Regions from separate parts of the Homo sapiens genome. Here all the other regions are linked to region 2. The links come from fine-mapping of genetic effects on gene expression. A gene starts in region 2. Each other region holds a variant in brackets. All regions are shown on one strand. Distances are from middle to middle.

The links. PIP is the estimated chance that this variant, and not a neighbour inherited with it, causes the effect.
Region 1: its variant is the best candidate, but not a certain one, in a credible set for the expression of HECW2 in blood mononuclear cells (TOPMed, PIP 0.61).
Region 3: its variant is the best candidate, but not a certain one, in a credible set for the expression of HECW2 in whole blood (INTERVAL, PIP 0.89).
Region 4: its variant is the best candidate, but not a certain one, in a credible set for the expression of HECW2 in whole blood (TOPMed, PIP 0.56).

Annotation. Positions count from the first base shown.
Region 1 is chr2:196,240,449-196,245,600 of GRCh38, forward strand. It overlaps HECW2 (HECT, C2 and WW domain containing E3 ubiquitin protein ligase 2), which reads right to left. Exons shown (of 29, transcript NM_001348768.2): 20 at 1,636-1,756; 21 at 1-114. Among named protein-coding and RNA genes, the nearest start is that of HECW2-AS1, 17 kb to the right of the region's middle. RefSeq lists an enhancer at 761-810. The variant A/G (reference allele first, on the strand shown) is at 2,220.
Region 2 is chr2:196,591,565-196,596,716 of GRCh38, forward strand. It overlaps HECW2 (HECT, C2 and WW domain containing E3 ubiquitin protein ligase 2), which reads right to left and starts at 1,990. Exons shown (of 29, transcript NM_001348768.2): 1 at 1,944-1,990. RefSeq lists silencers at 1,219-1,598, 1,679-1,948.
Region 3 is chr2:196,216,820-196,221,971 of GRCh38, forward strand. It overlaps HECW2 (HECT, C2 and WW domain containing E3 ubiquitin protein ligase 2), which reads right to left. Exons shown (of 29, transcript NM_001348768.2): 25 at 3,976-4,122; 26 at 3,220-3,334; 27 at 189-274. Among named protein-coding and RNA genes, the nearest start is that of HECW2-AS1, 41 kb to the right of the region's middle. RefSeq lists a silencer at 2,733-2,933. The variant C/T (reference allele first, on the strand shown) is at 1,982.
Region 4 is chr2:196,202,702-196,207,853 of GRCh38, forward strand. All of the region lies in intron 28 of HECW2 (HECT, C2 and WW domain containing E3 ubiquitin protein ligase 2), which reads right to left. Among named protein-coding and RNA genes, the nearest start is that of STK17B, 34 kb to the left of the region's middle. The variant G/T (reference allele first, on the strand shown) is at 3,017.

The DNA.
Region 1 (5,152 bases), 350 kb before region 2:
CCTTCCTCCCCAACGAAGGTGACATATAGCTTATTTCTCTGCAGGTCTTTTCTGGAGTAGCCCATAATCTGATTAAAAGCATCTTCTAGTAAGTGATCTCTTCGGATAATTAACCTGTCCATAAAGAGACAATTTAGAAAATACAAATTATTACTATACTATTAAAGATAATTTACTTATCTTTCTAGAACATTTCCATTTGCCACAATTAACTAGGTAAGAAGAATGTTACTTAATATCATTGCTGTCTGCAATAAAGTACACATTTGTCTTGAACTCTTAATAGCATTAGCAAAAGTTACATGAGAGAATCATTGGTAGAGTACCCTACCTATGACCAGTGTAAACAACCGGAGAATCCTATCTAAATGGTCAAATCAGTTTATCCCAGAAAAAAAATGATCATAAAACAACACCACACACACCACACACACCGCCCCCCGCCCATACATTTTGTTTAGTAAAGCAAGAACAACTCTATGAGGCAATGTTTTAAGTCTCAATGCATGTAGACAAGGAATTCAATTATTAAGTGCCCAGCAAGATGACTGTGAGAACAAAGAGGAAAAAAAAAATTCTCAATATCCTCCAAAGCAGAGGAGTTTCCAATTGTTAATTGTTAAATTAAGTGAATCTTGACAGTCCCTAAGGGACAGATACAAATGAATGATGAGTGTGGCAGGTTAATCTACTTGTGATGATGCCAATTAAAGTCATCCTTCCATAGATATCAATTTGCTCTTAATGTAAATGGTAATGGGCAGAGAGATGATAGGGAGGCTGAATGCATGACAGCTGGATCATCCTAGACCTTTGTAAGTTAAGTGTGAGAAAAGTAAAGCTCAGAGAAGTATGGTGTTTGGGCAGGCAGATGATTTTTTAGGGCAATGAAGGTGGATTTTAATCAAGCAAGCCTTCCTGCAGGTGGGGCAGTGAGCCATGGGGCTGCTGTTGGTCTGGTCTCTGGACCGTCTCTCAGGCACCCAGGGTCACAGGGGTGCTCCAGTGGAGACCGTCCCTCCTCTGTCCTCTCTCAGTGGCAGACTGATCTCCAGTGGGGACGTGGGACAGGGGTGAAGGCAGGGAGGAGAGAAAGAAGGGTAAGTAGGGAATGGAAACAATTCTAGGCCAAACAACATGATGATGTTTCAGTTTCCCCATTTGAAAGGAGGAGATGGATGAAGAAAGGCCGAAACAACATTCATGACATGTTCTGCTGTGAAGTTTGTTTCACAGAACTGAACAGAGCTGAGCACTATTCCTACACTCAGGTCAGTTCAGGAGACAGAAACTTGCAGTGGAGGACATTGGGATAGCTTTATAGCTAATGAATATACTATGCACCAACAAAGACATACTTTTCAGAGGAAAAAAATAAATCAGCCTTTTATTTTGCCTTTATTTTTGCATGAAAAGTGGCAGTGTCTTCACTATTTGTTTTAAAATGTTAAGCTTAATCATGTTTCATTCCAGGACTATGTTTTAGATGATCCTATAATTTACAAATTCCAAAATAATTATGCCGACTAAAATGAAGGCTAGTCATCCCAAATCACAATCAATTTCCTAGAGGCCCAACTGTGCCCTCTCCTTTCACCATCTATACATTATGTGGTTTGTGTCACTTTGACTTACTTTAACTTCCCTGGGCCTTGTCCATATCCTTTAGTCTCTAACTTCCTGTAAAAGTTCCTCAGTTTGGCTTCGAAATCCCGCTTGTAAGGGGCTGGAGCCCGGGCATTGGCACGCTGGGTACCTGCAGCAAACCACAAAGAGAGGACAATCTGGATTTGTGCCTCGTCCTTATGTTCATCACATCACCATGGACAAAAGCTATCACAATCAACAAGTCAAATGAGGCAACTGTCTTAACTTCTGCATTTTTGATTTCTGCAAGTTGAAGGATATAACAAACCTCAACCAAGGTCTTAAGTGACGTCCTCTTTGTGGCATTTTGGTTGAGAATAAAAATTCTGTTTGAATAGTTACAATGGTGCCCATGTGTTTCTCAAGTATGTTCCCCTTTTCAGTCGAAACTAATATGAGTCAAACAGAGTTACTCATGTCTAGTAGTAACTGTTAGGATGAAATGTCTTTGCTTGCTGCTGAAATGATATCATGGCAATTAGACAGGAAGTTGCAATGGAAAGTACATGGTATATAAGTAAGTGGCACCAAGAGTGAGGTTTTAATCATTCACTCTAAATTCCTCACCAAAA[A/G]ACTCCTCATGAAACTTTTTTTTTTTTTTTTTTTTTTTTTGAGACGGAGTCTTACTCTGTCACCCAGCAGGCTGGAGTGCAGTGGTGCAATCTTGGCTCACTGCACCCTCCGCCTCCTGGGTTCAAGTGATTCTCCTGTTTCAGCCTCCCAAATAGCTGAGATTACAGGTGCCTGCCACCATGCCCAGCTAATTTTTGTATTTTTAGTAGAGACAGGGTTTTGCCATGTTGGCCAGGCTGGTCTGGAACTCCTGACCTCAGGTGATCCACCCACCTCAGCCTCCCAAATTGCTGGGATTACAGGTGTGAGCCACCGCACCTGGCCTACAAAACTTCTTTTAGATATGCACTATCACCAAGAATGATTTTAGACACATAATTACATAAATCTCATATTGCAGGGTAAAATCTTAATATAACACATAATTGCAAAAGGCACCTGTCTCACTTGCACAAAGTGCGCACTTGCACAAAGAATAAATAATATTAATATTTATTGGATTCTTTTTTTTTTTTTGAGACGGAGTTTCGCTCTTGTTGCCCAGGCTGGAGTGCAATGGCACAATCTCAGCTCACCGCAACCTCCATCTCCCGGGTTCAAGTGATTGTCCTGCCTCAGCCTACTGAGTAGCTGGGATTGCAGGCATGTGCCACCACGCCCGACTAATTTTGTATTTTTAGTAGGGTCATGGTTTCTCCATGTTGGTCAGGCTGGTCTTGAACTCCCGACCTCAGGTAATCCACCTGCCTTGGCCTCCCAAAGTGCTGGGATTACTGGTGTGAGCCACTGCGCCAGACCATTTATTGCATTCTTAACATGTGCCAAGTACTGAGAATATCTAGATTATATAAGCATATTTTATACGTTATTCAATGGTAATTATCACTAATAATATGTAAAAGTAACATTGTTTCTCTTTCCTTTTTTTTGACACGGAGTTTTGCTCTTGTTGCCCAGGCTGGAGTGCAATGGTGTGATCTCGGCTAACCCAACCTCTGTCTCCTGAGTTCAAGCGATTCTCCTGCCTCAGCCTCCCGAGTAGCTGGGACTACAGTCTTGCACCTCCACGCCCAGCTAATTTTGTATTTTTAGCAGGGACGTGGTTTCTCCATGTTGGTCAGGCTGGTCTCGAACTCCTGACCTCAGGTGATCCGCCCACCTCGGCCTTCCAAAGTGCTGGGATTACAGGCGTGAGCCACCATGCCCAGCCAATTGTTCCTCTTTCCATAGAAAAATCTGGTTTTGTGTCACTGGGTAACACAAGCAGCAGGTTGGGATAGAAAACTGATGATGAATATGGAAATCAGACACAGAGCCATGACAAAAACACTGGATATTTCCACTAAATATTTCCCAACCAATGAAAGAAACCAGAAAACAAAAGCTGGGAAGTCTTGTTCATTACATACCATGTAAGTTCATTAAAAATGTCTCTAACAAATGAGTGAACTAAATAGTTGTTATTCATTGGGAATACTATGTTAGGTTCACCAATGGATGTCCAAAATGAGTAAGGTGGGGTTGCTGGAGTGGGTTGGGGAAACAGAAATAAAACATCAAACAATTAGAGAATAATTAAGTCCTGAACTAGGTATACAGACTAGAAAGCAGAGGAAACAAAGCTATACCCCTGGGGCTATACCTAGTCCTATAGATCCCAGTTGCTTGCCCCATAATCTTTTTTGAATATTTTAAATTAATTGCCAACATTTACAAATTAAATTTCAAATTTAAAAATTCCAGATTTTTCTCTTGAAAATTATTTGGGAAATCTTGCAATGACTGGCTTGCATTTCCTTGGGGATCCAGCGGGCAGCTGCAGCTACTCTGTTAGACGAGGCATGAGCTCACCACTTTGCGGCAGCCACTCAATGACATGGCTGCCTGCCCCCCAAGCCCCGCAAGCATTTGTTAAGATCAGTGTTACACAAAAGTAATAGTAATGTTATAAAAAAGAAATGAGTATAAGTAGAGATCAAAGTGGAAAAGGCCTTAGGGAGGAAGCTTAATTGGAACCACACCTTGCAAAAGAAGGAGAATTTATATCCTAAAGTGGAACACAGCAGCAACAGCTGGCATGAGCACTGCATGTGTGTTCAGAAGACACCAAGAGAACCAAGCTAGCCTAGAGTGGAGGAGGAGTGCTGGGAGTAAATGGGAAATGAAATTGATCAGAAGGGTTGGAGCCAAATTATGACAAGAATTTTTAAAACCTAGCAGAGGAGTTTGGGCATGATGCAGTGAACAGTGCCTTTATAGGTTCTTGAGCAGAAGAATAACATACAAATGGTGTTTTATTTAAGAAATTATTTTCAGAGTGTGTTGAGTAAATTAAGGGTGGGCAAGAGGAAAGAGCCCCAGTTAGGAGTTGTTGCAGTAATTGAAGCCTGAGGGGATAAGGACTAGACTGGAGTGAGTGACTCAGAGAAACATCTACAATGTGAAATATGCACTGGGAAAAGAATAGATAAGCAAGAAAGAAGAATGGGAAGCATGATGATAATATAAAGTGTATTTAAACAATAACAACAGGTCTTACTTGTTAAGCGCCTGCTGTACATTACAGATGATGCACGTTACACAGGGGATCTTGAGAAATCCTCACAAGTCTACGAAGCGGGTATTACTAGGACCATCACACACCACTTTGCAACTAAAGAAAATGAAGGTGCAGTTTCCTGTCCAAGTCATATTCCAGTGACAGTAGATTTGGGATTTGAGCCAAGTCTATCTACCTGATGCTATGAAGAGTGTGGGAAGTGATGCAGGTGGACAAGGGCATGTGAAACTTTATACATATTGACTTGGATATGACAGCTAACAAAATGCCCTAGAGACTGAAAAATACAGGGCTGGAATTGGGGTGAGAGCTCAGGGCCACACGTGTGGATGAGCTGAGTTAGTGTGTTTATGGCACTTTATGCAGTGACTG
Region 2 (5,152 bases):
GCTGGTTAGACTGCTGGATAGTAACGTTACAGTGTCTCCTTTAAGAGATCAAAATGTCTTTGCCACCCTCCACCCCACCCTACCCCACCTCTAATAGTGAAGTGGATAATTTCTGAAGAATACAATGACCCTTTATGCCTGGCTTCTCTAGTCTGCTAGGGATGCCATCTGTCTCCCACGCTATATAAACAATCCCCGCAGGAATCTTCTGATGACCAAACAGATTAGCAAACTCCAGATTTTCACGCCATTAATAATATCCCCATCCAGATTAGGCCTTTTATTTTAATAACTCCAAAGATAAAGTCAATAACTGATCTTTCTTTCTTTGTAGATAATGTGTGTGTCATTTTAAAGATAACCTCTTGGAACATACAGCCATCTGTTGGGAAGAGAAAGAAAAAAAGCTCTCTCAAAGCAACAGAAGAAATGAACCCTCGAGGGAATAGGAGAAATAGTAAAAAGAAAATCATATTTATAAGACAAACACATGGAGAGCTCTACTAATTACACTAAAATATTCTTCTTCTAAATGACAAACTATAGAACACTACTCCAGAAAAGACAAGTTTCACACTTTCACAAAGGTATATATATACGAAAACAGTTTGCGTGAGTCTAGGACAGTGAAAGCAGAAATCATAACCCAAAAGCTAAAGGCCCCCGAAGTTTGCATGCTGTCCACCTCTATCTGTAATGATCACAAATGTTTTCCTTCCTGAAGTTTAATATCGATTGAACCCTTGTAACTCTAATTGTGAGCTCTCTGTACTGACTCCAAAGACTTCTAACTCTAAAAGAAATGTGCCTGTAAAGATGTTCTCTAAATTAATAATAATAAACGACGAAAAGCACCCGAGCGCTGCTAATAGTGAAGACAAGGCATGAGAGAGTCAGACCTCTGCAGTCTCGCGTCCTCGGAAACGTCTACGTCTAAATCTGCAGCCCCAGTTTGCTCCAGGCCCCAAGCTCCAGCAGAGGATGTTCACGGCACATTCCCAACCAAAAAGGAAATGAAGCGTCCTCTCCCTCAACTGATGCTCAAATAGACCCCAAAGTCCCAGTTTCCCTGGAGAACCAAACCATCCAACACATCCTGGGCAGCGGAAACCGAAATGGCAAATGAATGACCGCGCCGGGGCGCAAGGGAGGAAAAACAAAGCCACCTCCCGCCGTCCGCTACCTGCGGCGAGGGCCGCGCGCTCACCTGGGCTTTGCGCCCGTCGCCACAAGCTGCGGGTGGGGACCCGGCCGCGGGGCGGGAGGGCGCCCCCAAAGTCGCCCGGACCCGCGGCCCCGGCGCCCTGCGGCCGGTCCGTGCGCGCCGAGGAGAAAGCAGGCGGCCGGGGGCGCCGCCGCGCGTTGCATGCAGCTCACGGCTGCTGCGGCCGCTGCCACGGAGCCGAGAGTCTCTGCGCTGCAGTCCCCGACCCCGAGACCGCGAGAAGCGCCCGGAGAGACGCGGCGCAGGGGCAGAGCGCGCTCGGCGCGCCCCTCAGCGGCTCTTCCCGCCGCCCTCCGCAGCGGGCTGGGTCTCGGCTCGCCTTTGTGCTGGCATCTTCCTAGCTCCCAGCGACACCCAGAGCTCTCGAGGCGGCTCCGCGCCGCCACCCACCCCCGGGTTACGCCACGGCCCCCGCGCGACCCGCCGATTGTGTCGAGTCAGCAGCGGCAGCGGGGACGCGCGAAGCCATGGCTCCCGCCCGCGCTCGGGAGGGCGCCGGGGGTCCTGCGCCTCCGGGAGGTTTGTGGCCGAGCGCGGCGCGGCCCCGAGCGGCCCCGCAGCGCCCGGCTCCCCGCCGCTCGCTCTCCAGGCGCCGACCCGCCTGCGTCGCCACCCTCTCGCCGCTCCCTGCCGCCACCTTCCTCCCGCCCGGGTGCCGGGCGTCCGCTCCAGCCGCGGTGCCCCGGTCCGCGGAGAGCGAAGAGTCCGGCCTCCTCACCTCCAGCCGCGCCGGCGCCCTTCCCGCTAGACGCTTCGGCGGCATCTGCCCGCACCGCCCTGCGGGACGCTGGGCTGGGAGCTGGCGGCACGTCGGGGACCGGTGGAAGGGAGGCGGGGGCAGAGGACAGGAGGGACAGCCAGACCTTGGCCAGCGGGACCTCCCTGAGGAAGGTGCGGAAGAACGGGGCGGGTGCGGCTGGGCGGAGGACGAGTCCCGAGGCTGCGGCGGAGCCTGAGTTGCTCTCCTTCTGCGAAGTCGAAGGACAGGAGGATTCCTAGAGGTGTCGCGGAGGGTGGAGGAGACCCTCTGAGGTCGTGCAGACAACACTGTTCCTCAACCCCACCAGAAAGCTGAATAGGGGAGTGTCATGCCTCGGTTTCCCCAACTGCAAGGGCAAGACGGTAATACTCATGTCGCACACACAGGGTGTGGTCACGATGAAAAAATGGATTATTGAAAGCGTTCCCAGATACTTTGCCTAAAGAGGGCACTAAAATTTAAAATTACTGTATTAATACTTTCGGCTTTCTGTTTACTTCTATAGCATCTTCATCAACCAGTCCCACGTAGGAGAAAAAGTAAAAATGCTAAAGTGTAAATATATTGTGTCCCTCCCCACCCACCCTTGCATCTGTCCAGATTTAGGGAAGATTTATTCAATTTTACAATTTAACTATATCCATATGGAGTAAGTCCCCAAATAATGGATAGCCATTCCTTTGGGACTTTTGAGTGTGTGCTCAATATTATCCATTTCTCCGCCTTTTCTGGTAACAGCAGTTCATTATTCCTATGGGAACTGCCCTTCCCCCTCACCCACAATGAGTCTTTGTGGCTCCAGGGTACTGACACCTCCCACCCTCAACCCCCAGAACTAGCCAGTCATCTTCCGGACCGCAGTGATCGGTTCTGGGTTGGGCATGTTGATCCAGGAACTCGGCCTAGGGCTTTGGATGTATTACTGCAGAAAAATAAGCTCTTTAAACTAGGATAACTAAATTGGAAGGATATAAGCCTACGGTAACAAGGACCAACAGTGCATGCCAATGAAGCCAACTTTGAGGGAAGAAAAGCTGCTGGTGAGAGGGTGATGTCCCACCCTCTCAGGAACCTCAGGAGGTAGATGTGTCTGCAGTGAACTCTACCCTTGAAGCCAATAAATCCTCTCTCTTTTATTTCAAGTCAGTGTCAGCTGTGTTTTGTCACATGTCTCAGAGGAGCCCTGACTTCTTAGTCCCCTGGATCTATCAGCCCAGGCATCACTGTTAGGATCCTCCACAGAATCAAAGAGCCCCACCCCACAAAAGGCCCAATTCCAGTTCTTGCTGGAAGAACAGGGATCCTAGAGGTTTGTTCCCACATGATGTTCTCCTTCACAACTTACTCAAATCCAGCAACCCCACACCTGCAATCCTTAGCTTCTTTGTGTTGATTAACCACTATGTTACATTCTAGTCAAAATGGGCCAGGTGCAGTGGCTCACACCTGTAATCATGCCTGAGGCAGGAGGATCTCTTGAAGCCAGGAGTTTAAGACCAATCTGGGCAACATAGTGAGACCCCACTAACACAGGAACAGAAAACCAAACACTGCGTTTTCTCACTCATAAGTGGGAGCTGAACAATGAGAACACATGAACACAGGGAGGAGAACATCACATCAGGGAGGAGGGGCCTATCGGGGGTTGTGGGGCTAGGGGAGGGATCTCATTAGGAGAAATACCTAATGTAGATGATGGGTTGATGGGTGCAGCAAACCACCATGGCACGTGTATACCTATGTAACAAACCTCCACGTTCTGCACATATATCCCAGAACTTAAAGTATAATACATTAAATAAAGAAAGAAATAAAAATAAAAATAGCCAGGCATGGTGGCCTGAACCTGTAATCGCAGTTACTCTGGAGGCTGAGGCAGGAAGATCAGTTGAGCCCAGGATTTCAAGACTGCAATGAGCTGTGATTGCACCACTGCACTCCAGCTTGAAGACAGAGCAAGACCCTGTCACCTTGTCAAAAAAGAAGAGGAAGAGGAAGAAGAAGGAGGAGGAGGAGGAAAAAGAAAGAAAGAAAAGAAAAACAGAAAAAGAAAGAAAAGAAAAGAGGAGGAAGGGAGGAAGGGAGGAAAGGAGGGAGAAAGAAGAACCCTAAAAATGAATAGAGGCAAAGTGAATCACTATTGCTGCCCTAGGTCTTAAAAAACATTTTTCTCTCACTTTAAAAGCAGCCCCTACTACCTTTAAAACTTTCTACATATCGACCATTAAAACCGAGACTAAGGCATCAAAGAACATTAATAGCAAAGTCATCCTAAAAATCTCAAACTTGCAAAGGTGTGTAAAGATTAGGTAGGTTCTTTCACACTGCACTCCCCGTTCGTCATCACCACCACTCTCCTTCACAAGATCTCTGACCGGGTCTCACTTATCCTCTCCTGGAGCCATTCCCTTAAAGAGAACTCAGTACTTTACAAGCTGGTCAATTCTGCATTGAAACTGGCCTGACATTAGGAAGTGATCCCTTATATTGAGTTGAAATATTTCTTCCACCTGAGAGTACTCCAAGCACTGAAGACAAACTTGTGAACCACTTGAATTGTCTCTTTTCCAAGATCTTTGCATGACCCATAAGTCATGCAGGACACATGGCAATGTGTCCTGACCCTTCATCATCCTAGGTTACTTCCTTTCTACAGATGTGCCAAGGTTTGTGACTGCTCCTTCTAAAGCATATGGCCAAAGCTAAACCCAAAGGCAGATTCCAAGAAACTTATACTCCAGCCCTCTTCCAACAACACAGAAGGAGCCTGAGAGACATGTTCATGTGGTCTTATATTTTTATAAAAGCTTCCAAAGTAAGATATTTTAATCTCAAGCGATTTGCAGTGGACTGAATGTTTGTGCTCCCCCAAATTCATGTGTTGAAATCCTAACCCCTAATGTGATGGTATTAGGAGGTGGGGCCTTTGGGAGGTGATGGAATAAATGCCCTTATAAAAGAAACCCAAGAGAGCTCTCTCACCCTCTTTCTGCCTCTTGAGGATACAAAGAAAAGATGGCAGTCTGCAACTGGAAGAGGGCCTTCCCACCCACATCACAACCACACTGGCACCCTGATCTCATTCTTCTGGCGTCCAGAACTGTGAAAAATAAATTTCTGTTGTTCATAAGCCACCCAGTCTAGGATGCTTTGTTATTGCAGCTTGA
Region 3 (5,152 bases), 370 kb before region 2:
GCTTAGGGAAGTTCTGAATAGCCATGGAGTCACATAACCATGCAATCAGGAGTCTGGAAATGGTGTATCTCATATTTCCAGATACACATGGTATGTGTTTATGGAGAATAGTTAGCAGTTATTAAAAACATACACTTCCAACAATAATCATATTGATACATTTAAAAGATTAAATAATGGCATCTCACCTGTAACAACCTTAGTCGTTGTTCATTGTTGAATCTTTCCACTGCAGCCCAGAACCACCGAATTACAATATGATTGTCATGGTATCCTATCAAACCAATCATAAAAGCCCATGTTACTTTGACTCTTCTATATTAAGCCACCAAGATACGTGACACGAAGAGTCCCCAGACATAAATCATCCTCTTGAATTCTTTACAAGTTGTCTATAATTTTAAGACTAAGGAATAACACTGTATATATGATCATATGAATGTCAAAAGTTAAACAAAAACAACATTAAGTGAAACCAAGAGGTCTCTGTTTTCATTTAACGGTCACTAAGTGAAACTAGTAAAGAGAAGAACAACAAATGAGTTATTTTAACCATATCATTTCTGTAAAATACAACAGTTGTTACTGGAAATACTTAACTCTTTCGGTCATTCACATAAGAAATAATTTTCAAATACCTCTATGCCAAGCACTGTACCAAGGTTGGGGGCATAATGGCAAAGAAAACAGACCCTCCCAGGGCTTCTGGCAGAGGGGAGACACATTAATCAAATAATTTATACAAACAAATACATAACTGCAAGCTCTCTTAAAAGCTATATATAATATTCATACTTTAAAATCAACTTAGTTTCACATTGACTTACTAATAAAAAGGGAAAAGTGACCTTTAGTTCCTTAAATAAATCCTGAGTAATCACCAACTTAATTTTACTCTTATTCCATACTTTAGTAGAATTTAAGAAAATGTCAAAGGAATCACCTCATGGGCAGTGATGATGGATTCCAAAAACCTTTCAGTGAAAACAAAAATTAAATTCAGAGAAAAGGCTAACAAGGATTTAGTGATTCAAACCAATGAATAGACATAGTTAATGGGCACTGAGTTAGTAGTCCAGAATAGAAGGCGGGTAGAAATTATTTTAATCCAAATTTTTCCTCACATTTCAGTAGTTGTAGGATTTGGGAGGAATCTCACCTTACTGTTTACCATTTCAGTGATGTTTAGTCCCCTTTGGAGAAAAAAAGGATCAAAGAGAAGGCTGATCAAAACTGGATTGAACATGAGGACACATGGGCCATGCCCAGAGTTTGGTGAAGACTAGCAATTTGGTACTGAGCAAAGTTTCTCATCTACAAAAGAAGTGCACTGGCTCTTTGTAGCTTTAAAGTTTTTTGACCTTATGAATTAGCCCTTTTCTGCTTCCCTTTTGCTATTTGTGCCAAACCTTTTGGAGGAAGAAGAGTGAATGTGTCTCATCATATTCTCTCCTAGCAGCTGGGGTGTGAACATATGGCAGGTGGCAGCCACACAGCCGCTTCTTTACTCAGTGCCAAGTAGCTGGGTGAGCAAACATGGCAGCTGAGGTTCTCAGCATTTTTCTTCCCCCTCCCAAAGATTTCATTTGATAAGATTTACAATAACCATATAAATAGGTCCTTGATTAGTCAGATTTAGTGAATAAAATTTTATGCCATGAAAATACAAAAATGGCTGATTCTATTAATGCATTGCTATTAGAATCTCCTGGGTCCGGGCGTGGTGGCTTACACATGTAATCCCAGCACTTTGGGAGGCCAAGGCAGGAGATCGCTTGAGGCCAGGAATTCGAGACCAGACTGGCCAACATGGTGAAACCCCATCTCTACTAAAAATACAAAAATTAGCCAGGTATGGTGGCATACACCCTCTGTCTGAAAAAAAAAATTCATCTCCTGGAAGGAAAGAATGAGCTAATAATATTTATGGTAAAATATAACTTATGTAGCATGTCAGAGAAATTGTGCTCTCAGTAAAAAT[C/T]GATGGGTTAACAACATTATAATAACCAAAGAGATACATGGATTATACTTGGGCCAACTGGAAAATACTTATTTCAGCAATTGGACTTCAGAAATAGAAGCAATGGAAACTGCAATTAAATACAGCCTTTCAGATTAAATGTGTGAGCAAGGCCAGCCCATGGTGCAGGGATGAGCTGGAACAGGCAAGCACAGGCATAACCAAAAGCAATTTAGCAAATGTTAAGGCATTTTTTTACTACAAACTTTTAAAACTACCTTTTTTAAAAAAAATCTCTGCTTCAACTTAGAGATAACTAGAGAACTGTTCAGCTCTCAATTTACTCTGCTAAGTGATTAATTCAGTGATGTTAGGTTTGTAGTTTTCATTCTCCAAGTTCAGAACTACTTCTAATCTCTTATACTTTGAGTTAAAAAACAAAACCCAAAGGAGAAAACAACTGGTATTTGTCATGAATTTCTGAAGGCTTCCTAACATGGTGATAATTTTCAGAAAATGTATTCTTTGCTTAAAATTATTTAATAAAACCTTAACTCTGGGTTACCACCAGGTCCCTTGCAAAGTGTTGGTTTAACACTCAAATTTCAATGGCTTTGGTCCCAGTTACTAATCAATAATTTGTACTGATCTGCAGAAGTGTCACTTTTTTAGCTTCCCATTTTGTGAAGTGTCAGATAGTGCAGTTTTTAATTAATCTTACTACAGTCTTCTTTTCACTTGAAATTCATGCTTGAATTTAGAACTTCTCCAATAATGTTGTATTTTGGGAACTGTGTCTTATTCCATTCAAGTGTTCTGACTATGAATTACAACTGATAAGGAGCGTAGTGAACAGTGGAAAAACTGTGCTGATTGGGAAGCTCAAAGGGTGTGCTTTTCTAAGTTTTAGAAACAAAATGGAATAGGTGGAGTTTGACCAGCTGGATGTTAGCTCCTTGGTGCTTCACTGACAACACGATAAAGTAATTAATTAGTGTTCTTACGGTCACATTTCCTCACCAACAATTAAGAGTTATGACATCCTTTGACGGTGTGTAAACAGTCCTTCTCCCATCTGACAGATGAGGTAATTAGGAAAAGAAGAGAATGTACCTTGCCCAAGGTCTCAAGGGAGCCTGCATCAGACCTATGATTAGAGTCCAAGTGCTGTTGCCTGTCCTATATTCAGTTGGCAAGCTGAACCATGCCTTCCTTTAATTTGAAATTTAAAATCTAGCCATCTATAAATCAAATTTCACCTCCTCTATATTCTGTGTTGTTTCTCCAATCACTTAGGTCTATTTCAGCTGTGCCTGCGATGACCAATTCCAGTTCTCTTGCATCAAAAACAGATACCAGCCTGGCATCCACCACCTGTGGAATAAAAAGAGTACAAGGCATGGCTTAGGAGCCTGGAGAAATATCAGCTATAATTAAGCCTTAGAAAAGGGGACACATGGAGTTTCAGGAATAATATGTGTGTACCTTGTGTTGGCACTTGAAAACCTGTAAAGCTCCCTACAAATATAAGGCATTCTTTAGTATAAGGTTGATGAGATTTGCCTTGACAGAATTTTTGTTTTATAATTGATTGCTGATTAATCTAGGTCCCGTCCACCTTTAGGAAACTATCTAGTGTTTCTACAGAAAAAGTCACATACAATACATGCCAACTCATTCTGATCTCAGATATAATTATTTCACATAGCAAGCATGAGATTTGATTACCCATATCTAAGCATAAGATGCATGGCTTAAATGTTACTAGTGGTCATTAAATCAACAAATGCTACTTGAATGCAGTCCATAACATTTATTTCAGTGATCTCTCGTAACAGTGAGTTAAGCTTCTTTTGGTGCTCTTGAAACATAAGGGAAAAAATACTGAACTTTTCGCATGGAAAGAGCAACAGTAAATACAGCAGAAATAGTCTACACATGTAAAGTACAATAAGATGGACTGTGGCATCATTGATATCAGACTGCAAACTCCTCCTACTGCTGATTGTCTTTACCTCATAGAAGCCACGCACTAAGCTCTCTGTTTGCTGTACAACACCCCTCTCAATCCTCCACTTCACCATCCTCTCGATGTACTCCTTCTTGTTCTTCTCTGTAACTGGGATATTGGCACCCCCTGGCTTTAATTCTCGTTCAGTTATCTGAGATTACAAAATAAAAAGAATGACTACAAAGCAATACTCTTAATGTTATAACAACATTACTAGCATTGAGCTGAAATCAGCCAGCTACCTGTCCCAGCCCTGCCCTAGGCACATCCCACAAGCTGGCAGTGAGGCCCCAGGCACTCACGGAGCACACACACTCAGGAAAAAATAGGCATTGAGGGGGTGCTTGAAAGCTTTGGTGATTAAAGTATATATATGTATTGCTGTTACTACAGGTTAAGTTTTAAAATGCCGATGAATCGGCTTCAGATACTAGCCTGCTACTATTTGAATGTTTGACAAAACCCATTTTCACAAATTTCTCAGAATTGACTATATCTAGCGTAAAGATTTACTTTAAAGCAGAATTACACTCAAGTGAATGTTAAATTGAGAACTTTTTCAAAACACATGGAATGCAGAAAAGCAGCTAAAGATTAATGCCTAAATAAGAATATTAATTATAAACTGGTATATAATTTCTGGAAGAAACGTTTTCCCTACTCTTCCACCAATTTTGAAAAAAAAATTAATATATTCTGTTCTTAAGTCTTCCCCAAAACATTGTTTATGTTCCCTTAGCTTCAAAAAAATCAATTTTGGTTCTCTTTATTTTTCTTTTCTTTTTTGAGACAGGGTCTCACTCTCGTCCCCCAGGCTAGAGTGCAGTGGCATGATCCAGGCTCACTGCAGCCTCAACCTCTCCAGCTCAGGTGACCCTCCCACCTTGGCCTCCTGAGTAGCTGGGACTACAGGTATGTGCCACCACACCTGGCTAATTTTTGTATTTTTTGTAGAGATAGGGTTTCACCATGTTGCCTAGGCTGGTCCTGAACTTCTAGGCTCAACTGATCCTCCTGCCTTGGCCTCCCAAAGTGCTGGGATTACAGGCATGAGCCACCGTGCCCAGCCACCATTCTATAAATGCCAATTAAAAAATTCTGTAGTGTGGACTTTAAAAAACTGCATTCTATATAAGGTAAATTCTCATATTTTGGGGGATATTTTAGTTGGAAATAAAAAG
Region 4 (5,152 bases), 390 kb before region 2:
GGATAATAAAGCAGGTGTGTGGCCACATGGCTTATTAAAAACAGGAATGTGAACAGGATCTGTTATATTGTAAGAATACAGATAGAGTATTCCTTATCCAAAATGCTTGGCACCAGAAGTGCTTTGGATTTCAGATTTCTTTGGAATTTGGAATATTTGCATATATATAATGAGATATCTTGGGGAATGGGACCCAAGTCTAAACATGAAATTCATTTACGTTTCACATGCACCTTGTATACACAGACTGAAGGTAATTTTATACCATATTTACATAATTTGGTTCATGAAACAAAGTTTTGACCGCGTTTTTGACTGCACCCTGTCATATGAGGTCAGTTGTGAAATTTTCTACTTGTGGCATCATGTTGGCACTCAAAAAGTTTTGGATTTTGGAGCATTTTAGATTTAAAATTTTTTGACTAGGGATACTCCAACTGTATGAGTTTTAGGGTATAGAGATAGTACCGACTCACCCACTCCTAGTACTGTAAACTCTGGGATATATTGGTGGAAATCATCTAATGAATCTTTGCAGGCAAACCCTTTTTTGATACAATAAGCATTTCAGAATTGCATTTGATATCCTTAGACTGGAACGCAAATTGAGCCTCAAGAAAAGGTTTTACTTATTTAAAAATTCAACTTGTATACTACACTAGAGTCCTAGCAGTGGTTTATAATCTATCATCTGTGAAACACTGGAATAAAAATATTAAATAAAGATTTATCTCTGTTCCAGGGGTAGGGGAGGAAGAAGCAGAAAAGTAGAATACGTTTTGAATATAATTCTATGCCAAACTGTGTGTGTCAGACAAATAACATTTATTATCCTATTAGACTAACAGATGACACCACAATACTATTTTACAATTTTCATTTCTTTGGTTACCAATAAGGTTGAGCATCTTTCCCCCATGTCCTCTTGCTTTTTACATTTCCTGTTTTGTGATCCATATGTTCATCTCTCTTGCCCGATTAACTTTTCAGTATTTTTATTGTGATAAAATATACATAATATAACATTTACCATTTTAACTATATTTAAGTGCACAGTACCATGGCATTAGTACACCTACGTTATTTTGCAACCATCATCACTATCCATCTCCAGAACTTCTGCATCTCGCAAAACTGAAATCTGTATCCATTAAATAGTAACTCCCATTTCCTCTCCCCCTAGCCCCTGGAAACCACCATTCTACTTTGTGTCTCTATGAATTTCACTACCCTATGTACTTCATATAAGTGGAATCTTAAAATATTTGTCTTTTGTGATTGGCTTATTTCACTTAGCATATTTTAAGGTTGATGTTGTAGCATGGGTCAGAATTTCCTTCCTTTTTAAGGCTGAATAATGTTCCATTGTATGTATATACCACATTTTCTTTATTCATTCATCCATTAATGAACAGGAGTTTTTTTCCTACCGTTTGGCTATTGTAAATAATGCTCCTATGAACATGAGTGTACAATTATCTGTTTAAGTCCTCCTTTTCAATTTTTTGGGGGATATACACAGAAGTGCAACATCATATTGCATTTTTCATAGTGGCTGCAACATTTTACATTTCCATCAACAGTGCACAAGGGTTCCAATTTCTCTACATCCTCACCAACACTTATTTCTTGTTTTTTGTTTGTTTGTTTGTTTGTTTTATAATAGCTATTGTAATGGGTATGAAGTCCATTCACCTTTTAAAGCCTTAGGATTTCTTATTAAAATCAAGAGAGACTCTCACTGTTGTTGAATTTGAAGAAGGAAGCTACTATGAATTCTATAGCTGCAAGGAATGAATGCTGCCAACAACCCAAGGGAACTTGGAAGCAGATTCTTCCCTAGTTGGTCCTCCAAATGAGAATGCAGCCCCACCCACAGCTTGATTTCAGCCTTGTGAGACCATGAGCAGAAGACCCAGCTAAGCTGTGCCTGGATGCCTGCTCCATGAAAACAGTGAGATCATAAATGTGTGTTGTTTTACACTGCTAAATTTGTGGTAATTTGTTTTGCATCAGTAGAACCAGTAACAGGTCTCAAGGTAGTGAAACAGTTCAAGAAAAGGTGGCAAATGTGATGTTAAGTGTGATACAGTAGAATCATCTATCCAGGACAGGTGGTGAAACAAAGCTAGGGGTTGGCAACAGTTCTTTCATTCTCCCAGGTTTCTGAGTAGAGAAACAGGAACTTTGAATGTCTCTTTGCCATTTCTGTAGTATCTTTGCAGGTACTCTAGAAGCTTATCCAGTAAATCCACAAGCCTAAATACTCTTTTCAGTTCTCAACACAAAGGGAAGGCAAAGGGAAGGACTAGACAACCTTTTTTGTTCCTCTGCAGTCGTAAGACATAATCAGCATTACTAATCCATAATCTAAGGCTATTGCTGCTTCATAAATTACATCTGGTTGCATAATATATGGTTACCATAACACAACTTTCCTTCTAATAAACTAAACAGCTCCTCTGGAAAATATTTCGCGATGATGGGGAAAGCATATATTGTGGAGGGGGAAACTGTGTGGAAAGATTAAATGGTTTTCCCAAGGTCAAAGCTGAGTCAGTGGCCAAATCAAGAAAAGGACCTCAGTTCTGGGTCTCCTAGGGAAAGTCCAACATTAAACTGAAAGCGGGGAGATTAATGCTCATGGCTTCATTCTTTTACTTTTGGAAGCCTGAGTATTAATTTTATCCTACCTCTGACTACGAACTATTATTCCTCAACATCCTACTAGATTATCCACATTTTGAGGACAAGGATTGGCAAAATAAAGCTTCAGATATTTTTTAAATGAATAATTCAATCACAATATGCAGTAGCTCTGGGGAAAATGGCTGAGATTGAGTCAATCCAGAAAACCCTGAAAAATACCAGGGGATTTTTAGGTGATCATACCATCTAGCTCAATCTCAGGCTTAATAGAAGAAGGCAAATACTCAAAAGGATACTTTAGAGTGTATCAAAATCACTCCAGGAGCTTGTTTTACAATGGAGATTTTTGGTTGCACCCCTTGTGATT[G/T]TAATTCAGAAGGTTTGGGGTGGGCCTGGGGGAATATGCATTTTAATAAATATGCCAAGTGAGTCTGATGCAGGTGGTCTCCACTATTGGAGAGGCATCAAGTGGATTAGCAACATGATACCTACATTGGCTATTTGCACCAGTGTTTTATGTGCTTGCAGAAATTTCAAAACTCCTTATAAACAAGACAGCATTGCTAATAAGGAAATTGAGGAATAGTGTGGTTAAATAAATTGCCCAATATTTACCATCAACTTGCTCTATGAGCCAAGGCCAGGAAAAAAACAAAAAAAATGGCAAGCAACACATAATCCTTGGAGGCTTTTCACACCCCCACTCCCACCCCATTCCATGTCCTAAGAAAACTTTAGCAGAAAATAACAGGAGGGCCCTGGACTGTGTTGATGTTGGCAGCAAAAGTGCATCCAGCTATTCAGTCTCAATAAAAGAACATTTTTCAAATCTTTCAAAGCCAGTCACACTAAAGCTATAATGGGTTTACCTCATTTTAATCTATTTAGCCAGAACCACTCAAGGAAAGCAGGTCTGAACCCATCTTTGGGAAATCATGCTGGCATCAATATTAAGAAGATTTAAAAATTCTCCAGACATCTGGTCTGACTTAATAGATCTCTTGGTGCTTTCTGGATTCTTCAAAAATGTTAATCAGGAGGTCACATGCTTACCCTCCCTTTTTCCCTACAGATAGACAAGTCAATTAGATAAATCCAGTGAGCCAAAAGTATCAGTTACATTTCCATTTCCATAGATTGGTTTGTTGATTAATTTCTCTCTCTGTATGTGAATGTACTTAATTTTCCAATTTGCATTATATTTCATTTATTCCTTCACTCGCTGAATAAGTACTTACTAAGCATATACTCCATGCCAGGGATTCAGCTGTCCTCTGAGAGATGAGGATGAAAAGTCTGGTTTCTGTCCTCAAGGAGTTTACACTGTGGCAGCAAAATATACAGGCAAAAAGACCCTCTAAAGTTTGTGTATCCTGTGCTCTGGGGCAAGCAGGAACTGAAATCCAGCCTTCCTTTGGCTCTGCTTGCCAAATTGTGAGCCCTAGCTGCAGGCTGCATTTCTCCAAAAGGCTAGGAGACACCTTTGTTTCATTAGTCCCAAAGATGGGCTATTAGTGGCCCTGCATACAAACAGTTAATAATACTATGAGTTACAAGTTTGCTCAGCAGAGCCAAGGAAGGTTCATAGAGGACACTATCTGTGCCAAGGCTTGAAAGATTTGTAGGTGTGCAGGTTTTCTCTGAATCAACAACAAGGAGAAGGATGTTCCCAGCAGATGGAACATGACATTGCATCATCAGGAAACCTGAGAGGGGCAAGCGCCTAAGGGACAGGAGGCAAGGTTGGACCTGAGGCCAGATGGGGAGGCAGGGACACATCAGGAAGCCAGGAGTGTTCTTGCAAAAACCTTTTCCAGTTATTTCATGGATGAAAGAAAGAAAAGTGGGTTGGCAGAGGTATCTTTAAATAAGGCAGGGAATATAGGAAATGGGTAGAGGGACAGATGATGAATTCAAGGGCGTGAAATCAGCATGAGAAATCCAAAGTTACCAATTAAATAGAGTGATCGAATTCCATTAAAGGAATCCAGTTATAGTTTTGTTAGCCTGGGTAGCTTTATTAACACAACTAATGGTAAAACTTGTTAGAATTTTTAAAATATTCATAATTTATCTAATATCCTCATGAATACCTTCTTAGGCCATGAGGTTTAGAGCAGAAATTCCTATTAAGAGTAGGGCACAAATATGTGTGTAACTTATGGCAGCAGAGCACAATGCCCTGACCTTCACCAGGTGTTCGGTAAAGGTGAATTCATGGAAAGAAATTCTATGGTGCTTGCTATTCCAACTACTCATTGGTCATGTTCCATTTTGGGACCAATGATGTTGGTTATCTGTTCATGTAAATATCCATTGCTTCTCTCCCTGTGTTTTAAGGTCAACGTATATCTCCCACAAGGTTCGGCACTTAGTAAAGCCATGAGGAGTATCTATAGACGGGTGAGGGGAATTAATCTATTCACTAATTAATGTCTTATTCCAAAGTCTCATTAGGTCACTTTGGTTAAGGTGCACTTGGATCTGTAAATACAAAGTGGAA